2 separate regions of the Homo sapiens genome follow, and region 2 is linked to region 1. Evidence: fine-mapped expression QTL. A gene starts in region 1. The other region holds a variant in brackets. All regions are shown on one strand. Distances are from middle to middle. Region 1 holds the start of AEBP1 (AE binding protein 1). Region 2 has its middle 6.7 kb from the start of POLD2.

The links. PIP is the estimated chance that this variant, and not a neighbour inherited with it, causes the effect.
Region 2: its variant is fine-mapped to the expression of AEBP1 in whole blood (INTERVAL, PIP above 0.99).

Annotation. Positions count from the first base shown.
Region 1 is chr7:44,103,201-44,106,101 of GRCh38, reverse strand. It overlaps AEBP1 (AE binding protein 1), which reads right to left and starts at 1,757. Exons shown (of 21, transcript NM_001129.5): 1 at 1,184-1,757. The coding sequence starts at 1,436.
Region 2 is chr7:44,128,764-44,131,664 of GRCh38, reverse strand. No RefSeq gene overlaps it. Among named protein-coding and RNA genes, the nearest start is that of POLD2, 6.7 kb to the right of the region's middle. The variant T/A (reference allele first, on the strand shown) is at 1,692.

The DNA.
Region 1 (2,901 bases):
TCTCCTACGGGGCAAGAAAAGCTTCAAAGAAAAGGGACACTTGGTTGAGTATTGAAGCCCAAAGAAGAGGAAGTGGTCTCCTTTCGAGAAGTAAGGGGTTTGGAATTGATTGGAAGGATAGGGAGTCCTGGGGGGTTCAGGGATCACACAGAGGACAGAAAAGACAGGTAGGGAGCTTGTGGCTGCACACTCATTTCAGAGTCTGGGAGAGGGAGCAGGGACTGGTTGTGAGGATTCCCCATGGGAATCCTCCCAGGACCCTAAGCAGGAGCTGCAAGTGCTGTTGAGAACCTGATGAGAGGTGGGGAGCATGAGGGAAGTTTGGCAGAAACACAGGAAAGCTACCAAATGCAGACAGCCAGGGGACGCAGGGCTGCTAGAGCGGTGCCCCAGAGCCAGGAGAGCAAGCCTGGAAGGAGAGCCAGAGGCAGGAGGGGCACAGGCAGCCCAGGGTGTGGGAAGCAGCCAGGAAAGATCTAGAGCTGGGGTGGCAGGGGAGGGGCTGCTGACATCAGGAATGTTGGATGGTGCCTTGGAATCTCCTGGGAGACAGGGATCACAAGACCCTCTGCCACCTTCCAGAGGGCCACGATGAAAACAGCTAAGATTTACTGACAACTGATTATGCAAGAGGCCGTGGGTTAAATGCTTCAGTGATGCATCACCTCATCTAATTTCCTGTACTAATGTAGGACCACCCATTGCTCACCACCACCTGAAGCCCTGTGCTCACCACCACCTGAAACTCTCTCACCTACGTGAGACCTCCTGGAGTAGGAGGGCAAAGGCAGGAGGGAGGGACGACGTGAAGCTGTGCCACCAACAGGGAGAGTGGTCCCATTAGTATGGCAGGGGGTGACACAGCACAGTCCCCTGTGGCTCAAGCCTAGTACCTGTCGCGTACTGGAGGAATGGGGATAAGCGACCCGTACAACCACAGCACCAACCCTAGAGCCACCGGCCCCCAAAAGCGGCCCTGCCGCCCGGGTGCTGGATGTGCCTCCACGCCAGCGCTGACCTCGGCCTAGCACAGGGTCCCTCCAGGCATCTGGGCTCGCGTGCGCATTAGTAAGCCAGCCATTCCTCCCCTAGCAGACTGGGGAGTGGCCAGACCCTACCGAATCCCCCTGTTCCCACCTGAGATGCCAGCCCCCCACACCCCCGCCCTGCCCTGGGCTCTTACCTTCTGCGGCCGTCCCTGGCCGCTTCCCTGGCTTGCCCCCCGCCTGGGCTTTTCGGACCCGCGGGGTGGGCTCGGGAGGCGGCGGGGCCTCCACGTCGTCCTCCCGGGGCTCAGGTTCTAGCTCTGACAGGAAGCCCTCGAGGAACTCCTCGATCTCGTCGTCGGTCAGCACCGTCTGCGGGCGCCCTCCAGGGCACAGGGCCAGCAACGCCAGGAGGCAGCTGAGCAGGGGCGCCCCGCGCACGGCCGCCATGGCCGCGGCACGCGCGGGGGGCTCCGGGGAGGGCGCGGGGGGTCAGGGGCTCTGGGTCTCTGGGAAAGGGCGGAGAGGGGATCGAGACGGGTGAGGGAATCCAGGAAGGGGCGGGAGAGAGGATGGGGTGAGCGAGGGAATCCGGGAAAGGGAGGGAGAGTGGATTAGGGTGGGCGAGGGGACCCGGGAAGGGGTGCTGGGGGGCTCCGAAGCCAGAGGGGCTCAGGGGTGGTCGGGGCGCTCCGAGGTCCTGGCGGCTAATAGGCGCTCCGGCCCCGCGTGGCGCACTCCCGCGCGGATAGCCGTCTCCAAAGCGCTGGCGGGGCCCGGGGCGGGGGCGCCGGGGCTTCCGGAGCCGGCTCCCCACCCCCGGGGAGGAGGAGGAGGAAGAGAAGGAGGAGCCGAGAGTGGACGGAGGGGCTGCGGGGGGGCGGGGGGCGGGGGGCGGGGGGCTAGGGGCGGGGCAGGCGGGCGGGCGCTGGCGGCGAGCGTCCCAAGCCCGGAGACTTGCGCCTAGGACAGAGGGGCAGGGGGCGGGGCGACTGGGAAGACAGAGGGCCTGAGGGAAGGAAAGGTGGTGGGGAGGGCCTGGGGTGCGGGTCTGAGGGGGCCGACATCCCTCCTCCTTCTGCCCTAGGCACCCCCCTTAAGGCGGGACCCCGAGTCCACCGGGGCTCTGAGCCCTCCGCGGGTGACCAGGAACCCTGGACGGAAAGCCGTGGTGTCAGGCCTCTGAGACCTCTCTCAATTCGGAGGGCCACAGAAAGGCCACCCCATCCTTCCCAGGCTCTGGAGCCTCTGCCCATGGGCCCTGCTGCATCCCAGCGTCAATTCATTCAGTCATCCTACCAACCTCTTCAGGTCGGTGTGGGGCCGGGCCCCGTGCTGGGCCCCAGGGAGGGACAGCACAGTGGGAACTCACTTTCCAGCCAGGAGGCAGGTGCAAAACTGCCCTCAGAGTGGCCAGCTGCCCCGCTGGGGGTAGGAGTCCCATGTAAGGGCATGCCATCCCTCCCCTCCGGGTCCCAACGTGGACAAATAGCCATTTATCACCTTCTTCTTACCAGAACTCATTTTTTAAAAAGTGTCTACCATACCTCCAGCTGCCACATGGACCCAGAGGGCCCAGAGGACCCAGAAGGCAGGTGGATTGAGTGTCAACTGATCCCAGGATCCATCAGGGATGTGCACCTTGGTGCCTGGTGTTTGCCATAAGGCTTCTCCAGGGCAAATGTTGGCTGCCCTACAACGGCCATCAACAGGCAGAGTGGTCCCATTAGTATGGCAGGGCGTGACACAGCACAGTCCCCCGTGACTCAAGCCTAGTCCCTGTCTCATACTGGAGGAATGGGGAGCTAAGGACAGAGCTCCGAGGACATTCCCCCTTAAAGGAATGAGGACACAAGAGAAAGCTCACAGGTAGTCCATGGGCCAAGTGCAGAGGCAGACAGCCCTAAGCCACGAT
Region 2 (2,901 bases), 26 kb before region 1:
GAGACAGATGTTTGTGCCTCCCTCCAACCCGCTGGCTAACACCTAGCTGGCACACAGCCTCCTGGGGCTATGAAGATGAGGGCCACAGCCACAGGGTGGGGGAGCCGTGAGCTGGGTCTGGCTGCGTCTCTGACATATGGGGGCATCACACATCACCTCTACCTCCCATCGAATGCTACACGAAGAGAACAAACTCCACCTGATGGAAGCTGCTGTTGTTTGAAGTCTTTCATGCTCACAACAGAACCTAACCCCAACCAATACAGTATGAGTATTGGCCCCACGTGGTTAAGCAAGCTGTCCAAGGTTACACACAGCTGGGAGGTGGTGGAGCTGGGTTTGAGCCTGTTATTGACCTTTGTGCAGACAGACCTCAGAGCAGAGCACAAGGCAGCAAGGCTGTGGGTCTGGGGCTCCCTCTCCAGGAGAATCAACTGGCTGCACACAGCCTGGAGAGCCCATGGGCAACCTGAGTCCTTGCACCTGGAAGTTTCTGTGTCCCACACATATCCAGGAGCTTAAAATGAAGATGTCTGAATTACCCAACCTCTTGATAGCACCAACCCAACCTTCCCAGCCTCCTCTTCTGAGGTCAGCCCAGAGCAAGCCCCTTGCAAAGCTGATTTAACTCAGAACCACTGGGCATACCCACAGGGCAGTGACCCTGCAGCCCTCGATCAAATGTGCAGATGGACTTGGGGGTGGGCTGGTACCCCAGATGGCCTCATTCTCCCAGGGTTGCAGAGCCCCTGAAAGCCACAGCCCTGTGTGCACACCACTGGGGAGTCATCACAGGATACTTCAAGAATTCAGTGCCAGGCAAGGTGGCTCATGGCTGTAATCCCAGCACTTCGGGAGGCTGAAGCGGGCAGATCACCTGAGGTCAGGAGCTAGAGACCACCCTGGTCAACATAGGGAAACCCCATCTCTACTAAAAATACAAAAATTATCTGGGCGTGGTGGCGGGTGCCTGTAATCCCAGCTACTCAGGAGGCTGAGACCGGAAAATCGCTTGAGCCTGGGAGGCAGAGGTTGCAGTGAGCTGAGATTGCACTGCTGCACTCCAGCTTGGGGGACAGAGTAAGACTCCATCTCAGAAAAAAGAGTTCTGTGTATCATTTAATGTGGAGATCCTCCCATCACGAGGATGAGGCTGTTTCTCTACTCCCCAGATCTGGGCTGGCCTGTGGTTTGTTGACCTCAGCCTTGTAGTTCTCACTTTCCTGGAACCTGAATGCCACCACGCGACATCCATAAGACAAAGCCCAGGATAAAAGATCACTTGGAGAGACAGGCCTGGCCTGGCACCACCCCGGCTGAGGCTGGACCCCTGGGAAGGAGACTCTGATGGACCTCCAGACCCAGTCAAATGACCACTTCCAAGGTCAGGCAAGAAGGGACAAAGAGCCACTGGCTCAGCCCACAGCATCTGAGAAATAAGAAACCGCTGCATTTTTTGAGCCAGTAAGATTTGACAGGTTTGTTTTGCAGCAATAGATGAGTGGTACCTCATCTTAGCCCATGTTCTGATGAAGACAAACAGTAGCATTGACAAAGTTTTAAGAAAAGTTAACCAAAAACTGGGATTCCTTTCTTCATTTTGACCCTTTGTTACAAGAAACAGAGGCCCACCCCACCAGACTCACTGTTCACTGGTCCCTGAGTGCCTGTGAGTCTCAGTGGGAGTTACC[T/A]TGAGACCAGCCCTTCTGAGTGGAGGGTGCTGGGTGCTGAGGTCAAGTCGAGCTCAGTCCAGGCTAAAAGGAGAGCAGCTCTGGCCAGGCTGTCAGGGCTGTGGCCTCCCCAAGAACCTCCTACCCTGGCCCCTCCAGGCTTTGCTGCTATGGTTGTGTGAGGGGAGTTGCTGTCCCAGCATTCTGGCCCCCTTGCCCCCAGCCCCTCCCTGACCTCCACGGGCTTCAGGCCTCAGTCCAGAGTCACCTCCTCTAGGAAGCCATCCCCCAGTGCAAGTCTGGGCAACATTCCTCCTTGCCTGGCCCACCTGCTCACTCTCATGCTATGGCTTTCTGTAAGCAAACACAAAGATAGGAACAACTCTGTCCCTGGCACAGAGCAGATGCTCTGGCAATATCTCATGAGTGAATGAAGGCACATGACAAACCTCCAGACCTGTGGAGACTGAAGGCTGAGAGCCTTTATAGATGCTGTGGGGCCGAGGAGTTTGCCAACTACAGCAGGTCATGCCCAGAGGTTTCTCTCTGGGTAGCAAGGTGTGTCTCCCACCAAAGGCCATTGGCATGGGGCCCGCCCTGCTGACCCGAGGCAGTGCACAGCAGAGGCCAGATGCAGTGAGAAGGAGCCTCTCCTTGGCCTGCTGTCTGCTGCCATGCCTGTGGGGGCGTGGACACAAGTGTGTGGCATAGAAGGTGGTGTGGCAGGTGAGAGGTTGGGGGTGTGTATGTAGCAGGTGTCTGTGTGTGTATGTGCATGTGGGGGTGTGTGTGCATGCATGTGTGTGTGTGCATATGCACGTGTGTGCATATGCATGTGTGTGCATGGAGAGAGAAGACCTCCTCTTTCTGGCCCCTCTCCTAGCTGCCCCCCTCCCTCCTGCTGCCAACACACTGTCAACCCTTCACTGTCTTTTTCCTTGGGACTCGTTGATCTGTCTCTACCATCCCAGGTGTCTGGAGCAGCCTCTAACCTTCCATCTGCCAAGGTACTTCAGCCCCACCCCTCCCAGCTGTGGAATGTCCCCTAGGATGTGCCACTGACACAAAGAGCCACACAGCTCCAAAATAGAATATTATCTAACCCACTGCTCCCTTTGCTGTCAGCAACACCTCCACCATGCTTCTCCCAGGACCCCCCTTGAACTCTCTGCTTCCTCCCTGAGGCCAAAGGAAAGACAGGAAAGGGGCCACCTTCCTGTCCTTGGGTCCC